Homo sapiens: one gene and its partners. The protein of the gene in region 3 purifies or fractionates together with the protein of the main gene of each other region. This does not show direct contact. Each region holds a gene or a part of one and is shown on either strand. Other genes may lie near its edges. The genes, in order: VDAC2, VDAC1 and CYB5R3.

Evidence for each region.
Region 1: the proteins of CYB5R3 (region 3) and VDAC2 purify together in Homo sapiens (affinity purification with mass spectrometry; 2 studies listed by BioGRID and IntAct, with this or other methods). This does not show direct contact.
Region 2: the proteins of CYB5R3 (region 3) and VDAC1 purify together in Homo sapiens (affinity purification with mass spectrometry; 2 studies listed by BioGRID and IntAct, with this or other methods). This does not show direct contact.

The regions. Positions count from the first base shown.
Region 1 is NC_000010.11:75,213,745-75,217,392, forward strand, and holds part of VDAC2 (non-selective voltage-gated ion channel VDAC2), read left to right. Parts: intron 1-276; coding exon 277-326; intron 327-3,648. UniProt on the Homo sapiens protein: Non-selective voltage-gated ion channel that mediates the transport of anions and cations through the mitochondrion outer membrane and plasma membrane.
Region 2 is NC_000005.10:133,994,913-133,998,560, forward strand, and holds part of VDAC1 (non-selective voltage-gated ion channel VDAC1), read right to left. Parts: intron 1-3,648. UniProt on the Homo sapiens protein: Non-selective voltage-gated ion channel that mediates the transport of anions and cations through the mitochondrion outer membrane and plasma membrane.
Region 3 is NC_000022.11:42,628,792-42,632,439, forward strand, and holds part of CYB5R3 (NADH-cytochrome b5 reductase 3), read right to left. Parts: intron 2,660-3,648; coding exon 2,587-2,659; intron 2,198-2,586; coding exon 2,091-2,197; intron 1-2,090. UniProt on the Homo sapiens protein: Catalyzes the reduction of two molecules of cytochrome b5 using NADH as the electron donor.

The DNA of each region.
Region 1 (3,648 bases), on a different chromosome or scaffold from region 3:
AAATAAATAAATAAATAAATAAATAATTTGAAAGCATTCTTTTGTGTACCAACTACCAAAAACTAGACAAAGCAGCATAGGGATAATTCTGCCCTTTATAAGCCAGTTTACAAAAGACGAATTTGTAACAATTTCATTTAAATATTGTATATTAACACATTTTTATCCACCTCTGAATATGTGGAATCTTTTTGTTTTTTATGTATAGTCAACAATTGCTATGCATCTTTCATACAAAGGAATCATTTTGTTTCTTTTGCTGTCTATTTGTTGAAGGTTTTGGGTTGGTGAAACTGGATGTGAAAACAAAGTCTTGCAGTGGCGTGGTGAGTGTTACTGTTGAATAAGTTCTATTGAACCTTTATAATTTTTCAACTTGTAAAATGGTCATAACTGAAAGATGTCTACCTGTTTTGTCTTAAAGAAGAGGCAGAAGTTAACTTTGTTTTAAGAGATTTGCGTGTAACCTGATTTATTTTGGCCTTGAATGTGATTTCTGATTTTCATGTGGTCTTTCGTCATATTATGTATGCACAAGGAACTTAGGAAAGACCAGTCAGGTGGTACTCTTTACTCGTAAGATTACACATTTGAAGGCAGGGAACCCATTATTAGACTTTTTTGTAACCCTTTGTCAACAATGCTCGTCAGAGTTATGGGCATAAAAATATCAGGAACTCATTAATTTGAGTGTACTAATCATTTATATAATGTCCATTTTCTAGCAGTTCTCCCTGGAGAAGATTTCCACATGTATTTTATGAGTTTAGGGAGTCCTGATCTGAATTTTTTTTTTTTGAGACGGAGTCTCACTGTGTCACTTAGACTGGAGTGCAATGGTGTGATTGTGGCTCACTGCAACCTCCGCCTCCTGAGTTCAGGTGATTCTCTTGCCTCAGCCTCTCTAGTAGCTGGAATTACAGGTGCCTGCCACCACGCCTGACTGATTTTTGTATTTTTAGTAGAGCTGGGGTTTCACCATGTTGGCCAGGCTGGTCTCCAACTCCTGACCTCAGGTGATCCACCCACCTTGGCCTCCCAGAGTGCTGGGATTACAGGTGTGAGTCACCATGCCCAGCCAAGAATATTTTTAAAGAGGTTAATATTTTGGTATTTGGGTGTCTTGATAGTTCAATGAACTGTTTACAAAGGGGATAAACTAATATTTAACTTTTTTCGAGACAGGGTCTCACTCGGTTGCCCAGGCTGGAGTGCAGTGAGTGCAGTGGCACAATCTCAGCTCACTGCAGCCTCGACCTCTTGGGCTCAAGCAATCTTCCCACCTCAGCCTCCCAAGCATCTGGGAGTACAGGCCGTATCCATCATGCCTGAGTATTTTTTGTAGTTTTTCTAGAGATGACGTTTTGCCATGTTGCCCAGGCTAGTCTTGAACTCCTGAGCTCAAGTGATCCACTTGCCTTGGCCTCCCAAAGTGCTGGGATTACAGATGTGAGCCACCATGCCCAGCTAGTAAAATTTAACTTTGTGAAATTTTTTTTACTTAAAAAATTTTTGTTTTGAGATTATTTTAGGGGTGGGTGTGTGTGCACATTAGAATACTATAGGTTATTTTGATATATGTATGTATGTATATATATAGAGAGAGAGAGACTTTTTTTTTTTTTGAGACGGAGTCTTGCACTGTCACCCAGGCTGGAGTGCAGTGGCATGATCTCAGCTCACTGCAAGCTCCACCTCCCAGGTTCATGCCTTTCTCCTGCCTCAGCCTCATGAGTAGCTGAAACTACAGACACGGGCCACCACGCCCAGCTAATTTTTTTGTATTTTTAGTAGAGATGGGGTTTCACCATGTTAGCCAGGATGGTCTCAATCTCCTGACCTCATGATCTGCCCACCTCGGGCTCCCAAAGTGCTGGGATTACAGGCGTGAGCCACCGCGCCCGGCCTATATAGACATTTTTGATGTAGTGCATGTAACTGATATTTATTTAATCGTATTGTAGTTTTTTTGTTTTGTTTTTTTTTTTTTCCTCTGAGACGCAGTCTTGCTCTGTCGCCCAGGCTGGAGTGCAGTGGCATGATCTCAGCTCACTGCATCCTCCACCTCCCAGGTTCAAGTGATTCTCCGGCCTCAGCCTCCCAAGTAGCTGGGATTACAGGTGCTTGCCACCATGCCCCGCTAATTTTTGTATTTTTAGTAGAAACAGGGTTTTGCCATGTTGGCCAGTCTGGTCTTAAACTCCTGACCTCAAGTGATCCCAAAGTGTTGGGATTACAGGCGTGAGCCACAGCGCTAGCCCTGTAGTTTAAAAGCCTAGGCCTGTTGGATTTCTGGGGATTTACATTGATCATATCTGTCGCTTGGTTTTTTTGGTCTGAAAGGAAGCTTAGGTGTTTAGTTATGATTGGATGACTTATTTGGCCAAGTTAACAGGTTACAGAGCAGTGATTTTTAGTGTTTTTTAATGTTCCCATTGTTAGTCTATTGAGGCCCCTAGTGTATTTGTTGAAACACAAAAGGCCTTCTAAAAAAGATTCAGTCCTTGTGTTTAAAAAGCTTACTTTCTAGTTGGAGAGACAAAATAAACTGAGAGTACTGAGGTAATTAATATCAAATATTAGATCGTTGGATAATCAAATCTTTGTTGGAAAGGAATAGATTGTTGTGTATAGGGTTAGGGAAAGTTTTATGGAAGTAGGTTTAAGAGCATGAAGGATATGTAGGAGCTGGATTAGATATAGCATGTTTTTATTCACATTTAATACATGTAACTCAACAACCATGGTATTGATCCTATAGTATGTCTCTGGCCCCAGATAAGTCCCATTAATACCTGGCTCTGTTTTCTTACCTGAACAGCAAAGCTACTGAAGCCACCCCAGAATGTAGAAGCCAAAATTTCTGGTGGTAAAGGGTATGAGCTGTAATCTGGCCCAACTCTGGTCCCACAGGGTGGTGTTGGCTTTGTTTCTTGAGGCTTCCTTGGCATGTGTATATAGGCTGGCTCTTGATCTGTGGGCTGATGAATGGCCGTAGGTGGGGCCCCAAGAGTCATTAATGTCATTCAGGATTAAAAATAGCTACTCACACATTCCCCATTCAAACTGCTAGAAAAACCTGTTCCATATATATTGTTTTAGTAATGCTTTCCTTTTCTGTGGAGCATATGAAAACGTACAAACTTTCACAGTGTCAGTTCAATTTAATCATTCGGAGGTAGGCTTTGTAATTATAGTTGCAGAAACAGACCCAAAAAAGTTAAGTGAGGCTGGTCACAGTGGCTCATTCCTGTAATCCCAGCGCTTTGGGAGGCCAAGGCAGGAGGATCCCTTGAGCCCAGGAGTTCTGAGACTCACCTGGGCAACATAGTGAGACCCCGTCTCTACAAAAAAATTTAAAAATTAGCTGTGCTTGTTGGTGGGTACCTGAAGTCCCAGCTACTTGGGAGGCTGAGATAGGAGGATCGCTTGAGCCCAGGAGTTTGAGGCTGCAGTGAGCTATGACTGTGGCACTGTACTCCAACCTGGGCGACAGAGTGAGACCCTGTCTCCAAAAAAAACCGCAAAATGTTGTGTCCTGCTCAGTGTGATGCATTTAGTAAATGACACGAAGAACTGGACATCAGAACTCCTAATTTTTATATCTAGTGTTTCCTAACATGATCCAGTGCTTTTTTGTTTAATTGG
Region 2 (3,648 bases), on a different chromosome or scaffold from region 3:
AGGAGCCAGAGCCTTCCCCACGACTCTCCCCTGACCCCACAGAAGAGACGCCTCCCAGACACAGCAGCCTTCACATCTGGACTGGTCCCCGCTCAGGATAAAGGCAGAGCACTCATCCATTAAATGTTCCCCAAATGCCCTCTCTCATCGCTAATCCCCAAAATCCAACAAGCACAGCCACCTGTCAAAAAACACCCCACCCACAGCAAACATCAGCCTGAAGTACAAGGCCACTAAAGAGATTACCACCCAAGGACAAGGCACTCAGAGAGCAGAGCTCAGAAGAGCAGACCGGACCCCTCCTGGGGCCTCTAGGAGCTCCGACACGGCCAAGCTCTTTTGGGGCTGTGGGGTTCCACAACACAACCATGTAGTTGGTACCAGCAGCACGCAAGTGAACTTGCTGGTTCACTAAAACATATCCCTATCCAATGCCTCACTGTAAACATACTGGATGCTGGCTTTCTCATCTGTGTCTTGCTCTCTTCCCCATCTCCTTGAACACCGACAATGAAGCATAATCTCCCCCGTTCTGGGCCCCCAAGTAAGCATTCTCCCCAGCATAGCACCTGGCAAGGAAGACTCACAGAAACCACTGGCTGAATGGAGTCAAGTCCACTCCTGGGCCTGAAGTGACACCACCGAGGACAGCAAAAGGATGACTCACCCTTTCACTAAAGGCCCCCAACTGCCAGGTAGTGGTAGCTTCCCCTCCTTTTTGTGCACTTCGGCCCATCCCCTGCTGCACTGATCTGACGGAACTAAGGAAGGCCCGAGACAGCTCTGCCGCTCCGAGAAGTTCAGCTTTCTTACAGCTACAGACAGCACCCCCAAAATGCCCATTTTTACACAGCTCTCGAACCCATTTCAGAGACAATTTTATGATAGAAATAATAATCTGCATTAATTTTCTAAGGCGAGGACTGGAGGAAAGAAAAGTCGGCAACAAAGCCTGCTTTCACTTAACACCCTGCCAGGGTGCTGACTTGAAGGCTGAACCCTGGCCCCCACCCCTCCCAGTCACTCCTTCCACCCAGATCTGCTCCAAATCGGAGCCTGTACAGTTAGCTACTGATACACAGCTGTCTCTGCAGCATCCACCCCCCAGGGGCCTTCACAAGCTGAGCCTCTAGAGGCTGCGCATGAAGCAGGGCAGTCTGGCATCGGCAAAGCAGCTAGCCCTGGACAGACAGAAGTCAGAGGGCGTCCTGGGGGAGTCAGAACCACAGGCCTCTCTGCCTGAGTGATGGCTTCAGGGCAGAGCCTGGGGGCTTTGTTCCCACTGGTTGGTAGGAAACAGAGGGATGGGCAGGGCCAGGCTGAGCAGACCTGCCTGCAGTCACTGAAGACTTTGAGAAGGACCAGCAAGTCACACCAGGATACAGGAGTCCCTGGTTCCCCTCCACAGCCTGCCAGTCTACCTACCCAACCTTTCCTTGGCTGACCTTGAACAAATTATGCAAGCCCCATTCCAGCTGAGGAATGAAAATCCGGCCCATACTGGAAGCACAGAGGGGAAGGATAGTGTATCTATCACCCAGCACAGTCTGCATAATACTTACGTAACCTCTGTCTTGGGGGTACACATCCTTCTTGGCTCATCAGCTGAATGGCAATGACAGCTGCTGTGCTCACCGTGCCCCCACCCCACCCTACCCCATACACCTACCCCCAAAATCACCTCTTTGAATTCAAAGCACCCCAGAGCCTGTCATGCATAAATTTATCCAAAATATGGAAAAAGTTACGTATATAAAGATGCTAAGCCCTGGCACATAATAGGCATTCAATATAAATGTGTTTGATGAGTGAATGAGCAATGAGCATCAAAGTATTATTTAGCAATGGGGAAAAAAGTAGAAACTTGGAATCTGACAATAGGAACTCATTACAATGCAACCAGGAAGTAAGAGCTCCCTCTGCAGGCTCACTGTTGCAGCATCACCAAGAGTGGGGGAGTTGGGGAGACCCTCAACTAGCAATGACCTCCACTCCCTGCCTGCTCCCACCTCGGCCTAAGGAGAGCTGATCTCAGGCTGAGGAGACCAAGTGCCATCAGAAGCACTGGTTGCTTCTGACCTCAATACCATGCATGGATTTTATTCTAAGGGCCACCAAGAGCCACTGTTGAGTGACTACCACATCTGTGTTTCAGAAGCTCACTTAACCAGCAGTCTGGCAAAAACGTAAATAATATCCAGTGTCAGTGAGGGTGTGGAAAACAGTCACTCTTGTTCACGCCAAGGGGGAGTACTACAGGTACACTCTTTTTGGAGAGCAATTAACCCAGCATTAACCCTAGTGGCAATTCCACTTCTAGGAACCTGCCCCACTGTAGCAACCAAGGCACTACTCAAAGATGTGTATATGAGGATGCTCACTGCAGCAGTATTTGTAACACAAAACCCAGAAGCAACCTAAAAGTCCATCAAAAGGAAAATGAATGAATAAAAATTAAGGTACTATACTTGCAAACTAAGGAGTACCATATGGTAATCAAAAAGAATAAGGTGGGTGGCTCATGCCTGTAATCCCAGCACTTTGGGAGGCTGAGGTGGGCGGATCACTTCAGGCCAGGACTTCCAGATCAACCTGGCCAACATGGCAAAACCCCGTCTCTACTAAAAATAAAAAAAAAATAAAAAAAAAAAATCACCCAGGTGTGATGGTGCACGCCTGTAATGCCAGCTACTTGAGAGGCTGAGGCACAAGCTTAAACCAGGAGGCAGAGGTTGCAGTGAGCCAAGATCATGCCACTGCACTCCAGCCTGGATGACAGAGCGAGACTGTCTCACAAAAAAAAAAAAAAAAAAAAAAGAATAAGGTGGATGTATGTGGTGGCATAGAAAGCTAGCTATGAAGCTACGATAGCCGTGCGCAGTGGCTCATGCCTGTAATCCCAGCACTTTGGGAGGCCGAGGTGGGCGGGTCACCTGAGGTCAGGAGTTCGAGACCACCCTGACCAACATGGAGAAACCCTGTCTCTATTAAAAATACAAAATAAATTAGCCAGGCGTGGTGGCGCATGCCTGTAATCCCAGCTACTCGGGAGGCTGGGGCAGAAGAATTGCCTCAACCTGGGAGGTGGAGGTTGTGGTGAGCTGAGATCGCGCCATTGTAATCCAGCCTGGGCAACAAGAGTAAAACTCCGTCTCGAAACAAAAAAAAAAAAAAGAAAGAAAGCTAGCTAGCTATGATACAGTTAAATGAAAAAAGTCAGAAAATTTGTAATTCCATGTAATTGGAGGAAAACCTTTTTACACATCTTTCTATGTTCATGAATGGATGGGAAAGCATGTGGAAGGATACAAGCCAATCTGCAAATTGGGGCTGGCTTAGATACGCTTCTGGAGAAGGAGGTTTAGGGAAGGAATGCACTTCAAATCGAATTTTCATTTTTTGTTCTGCTTCATTATTTAAGCTGTTTGTGTATACTAATAATTTGTTTAAGGATAAAGAATTTCAATACAAAAATTAGCCGGGCGTGGTGGTAAGTGCCTGTAATCCCAGCTACTTGGGAGGCTGAGGCATGAGAATCACTTGAACCCAAAGGCAAAGGCTGCAGTGAGCCAAGATCGTGCCACTGCACTCCAGCCTGGGTGACAGAGCGAGAGACTCCCTCTCCAAAAAAACAGCACTTTAAAAGCC
Region 3 (3,648 bases):
AGAAATGGGGAGACAGAGGAGGAGCGGCTCACCCTGCCCAAGGAGTCTGATGGATGGAGAAGGGGAAGGTGGCTGGGGGAGGGACAGCGTGTACACAGTGCCTCAGGGAGGGGAGCCTGTTGTGGCTTCAGCACAGAGGGTGGCTATGGGGTGTGGAGGCAGAGGGGAGTGGAGGGCCACGGACAGGCAGGCAGAGCACACTGTCCTGGGCCCTGGGTGCCAGGCCAGGACTCTAACCTTTATCAAGGACCAAGGGAGCCAGCCAGGTCTCCAAGCCAGGAGAGGCCTGGTCACCTGTGAGTTTTTCATCCTCAATTTGAATCCTCCTAATAGCTTCTCCACATTTGGCCAGAGAGACTTCAACGTGAACAGATGCTTGAGCCCTCATCACCTCCTCTGTGCTTCTGGACAAAGCCCCAAACCTTACTGGGGCCTCCAAGGCCCCGTCTGGCCCCACTGACCTCTCCCACCCCTTGCCCCAACCCTCCAGCCACTTCAATCCTTGAGCCTGCTGCTGACTTCAGGGCCTTTGCACCTGAAGCTCCTTTTCTTCCTTCTTCACCTGGTCAGTGCCTACTCAGCCCCAGATCTCACCTTCACTGTCACCTGCTAGGGAGCCACTCTCACCAGCCAACCCCACCCATCCCTGGTGGCCCTTCTGGAAGCTCGGTCGCAGGTACCTGTCCCCTGCAGGGAGCACTGGCTTCCCCATGACTATGTGTCCAGTGTCCGTCCTCCAGCCAAAGACGGGCTCCTGAGGCCAGGCCTGGGCGCCCCAGCAAGGAAGGAGCCCGGGCCAGGGCCCTTCCCACCCTTCAGATCCAGTGCCTGCCCCCAGACCTGGCAAGGTAAGGGCCTCAGCTACGGCCCAGTAAGGGGGCTCCAGGGGTACCTGAGGGTGCTGGGCTGGGGAGGCTATAGGGCTTTGGCCTTGATTGGGGAGGGTCTCCAACACCCCACATACCCACTGGTCTAGGCTGCTTCTCACCCTCTGTTCTGCAGGAAAGCTTGTATTTCTTTTTTTTTGACTGGCTCTCATTCTATTGCCCAGGCTGGAGTACAGTAGCATGATCTTGGCTTACTGCAACCTCTGCCTCCCAGCTTCAAGTGATTCTCCTGCCTCAGCCTCCCAAGTAGCTGGGATTACAGGTGCGCACCACCATGCCCAGCTAATTTTTTTGTATTTTTAGTAGAGACGGGGTTTCTCCATGTCGGCCAGGCTGGTCTCTAACTCCTGACCTCAGGTGATCCACCCGCCTTGGCCTCCCAAAGTGGCTTACAGGTGTGAGCCACTGTGCCTGGCTGAAAGCTTGTATTTCTAATTTTCATAAAAACGTCCCTGCTGGGGCCGTCATGCTGCCTCTTACTTCCCACTCGGCATGTGTGTTTCAGGTTCCGGGCTGCTGCCCCTAACGCCTGCATCTTCTCCTGTGAACCTCCACCTCGAACCCCGCAGCAGACCCCAGAAAGCCCATCACCCCAGCTCCCAGACAACACCACACGAGCCCCTCACATGTTTCCCTAGCAGGCCTGAGGGACATTTCTTAGGGAAACGGGTAAGAACAGGGCCTGCGTGTCACAGAGGCCCGGCCGCTGACCACGGTGGAGTGGCTGCCTCACCCCGCACACTCGGGACCCAACTCCCAGGGATCTCCCAGCGTGAGAGCAGGGACGGGACTGCGCCGTCACACCTCGCAGCAGGGGCGTCTGTACCGCCAGCCGGCCTTCCTGGAGCCTCTGCTGCAGGTACCTGTCCTTGTTTGAAGGCACTTGCCCTGAACCCTGGCCCCTGTTCTCTGCCAAGACCCCCTTCTTTGGCTTTTGTTGGTAAAGATGACGTGCTATTTACTCAGAAACCAGGCACAAGGGAGCACTGGGTCTTTGGAGTCCGGGCTGCGGGGGGACATGGACTCGAGAGGGGCTCTAGAAGCCACTGCCCCTGCAAGCCCCTGAGGAAGTGGGGCAGCCATGACCGAGGCTGGGCTGCACAGGGCAGGAGCGGGAGACTTCCCTGTCCAGGGGGTCCACATGGGCTGTTGCCATGGCCACCCACCCACACCCCCTCCACAGTCATGACCCAGAGGCTTCACCTTGATGACCAGGTCCACGAAGCCCTTGTCATCATCGCTGGAGATGGGTGTATAGGGCCGGACGACCAGGTTTCCATCAATTCGAGCCGAGAGGTAGATGTGCTGGCCTGCAGGACAGAACGGGGTCACTCTGGGCCAGAGATCATCCTGCGGGTGACCCCTGGGTCTTGTCAACCCACTCCCCTGCACCCCACCCGGCATTCAAAGCCTGGCCTGGCGTCAGCTCCCACGGCCCCCTCCCACCCCTCCCGGGGATTCCCCTCACGTCCCAGCTTCCTGCCTCCATGCCTTCACTCCTGCTGGTGCCACTGCCAGGGACTCTGGGCCTTCCCACTCTCATTCCAACAGACTCGCCCTCAAAGGCCCAGGGCAGCTGTCACCTCCTCCTGAAGGCTTCCCTGCTCTCCCTGGTGGAAATGTAAAGCTTCCATCTCTCTGATCTAGTGCCCCAGCAGCCTGCCGGGCTCCGAATGGGCCCAGCAGGGGCGTGACTCACCGACAGGGAGGCCCAGGATGTGCTGGGGTGACGGCAGGGCAAAGCGGAAGCGCCGGGTGTCATGGCTGATGATCTGGAGAGAGGCCCAAAGCTGCTGAACGGTCCCCAGGGCAGAGGCCTCCCAGGGCGGCTCCCAGGCCTCGGAGCCCCCATCCCATTCCTCCTTTGTGTCCCCACCCTTCCCCAGTGCCTGCTTGTCCTTGTAAGACGTGACGCCGACGCCAAGCACAGATGCACACACATGCACGCTGCGTGTGAGGTGCTGAGGCCAGGCGCACGCTGGGTGTGTCTGTCCTGCTGGCCTAGAGGGGCCACAAACAAGGTGGCCAGAACAGGGAATGAACCCAGGGTCCCAAAGGGAGGATGCCAGACAGGACGGGGAGGGAGGAATCCATCTCTGCCATCAGCTCAAGCAGTGGCCTGAAGGGGCAGGAAGAACTTGAGGGCTGGATGGGCAAACTGGGGCAGAGCTAGACAAGGCTGCACGTGCCCAGGCCTGCATCCCAAGAGAGGGGCTGCAGAAGCCACTGCACCTGAGAGCCCCTTGGGAAATGGGGCAGCCAGGACTGAGGTGGGCTTCACAGGGCAGAAAGTGGGAGCCTTCCCTGCCCAGGAACTCCAAGAGCCCAAAGCCAGGCTTCCACCCTGCACAGGGTGGGCACCCAGGGCATGGTCAGTGGCTGGGACAGTGGCAGAGGAGGAGGGGGGCTGGCTAAGAGCCAGATTGGGCCAGGGAAGGAGCTGAGACTAAAACCCCTGAGGTCTTGTTAAGTGGGTCTTACGCTCAGGCCAGGGACGATCACATAATCAGTTCCAGTCGGAGCTGGAACCAAACCCAGCGTCCTGAGGGTGCACTCCCTGTGGGGTCCCCAGTACCCAGCATGGCCAGGAGAGGGAGTGTGAAGAAGCCATGCGGAAGGTCGGCGCTGCAGAGGCGCTTACATCCAAACGTGGCAAAGTCCACATGTGGATGGTGTCATCACTTAGAGGGGGACAACAGACCTCTCCAACAGGGCAGGACATCACAGATGCCCATCTCGGCTCAGTACGAGAACTCTCCGA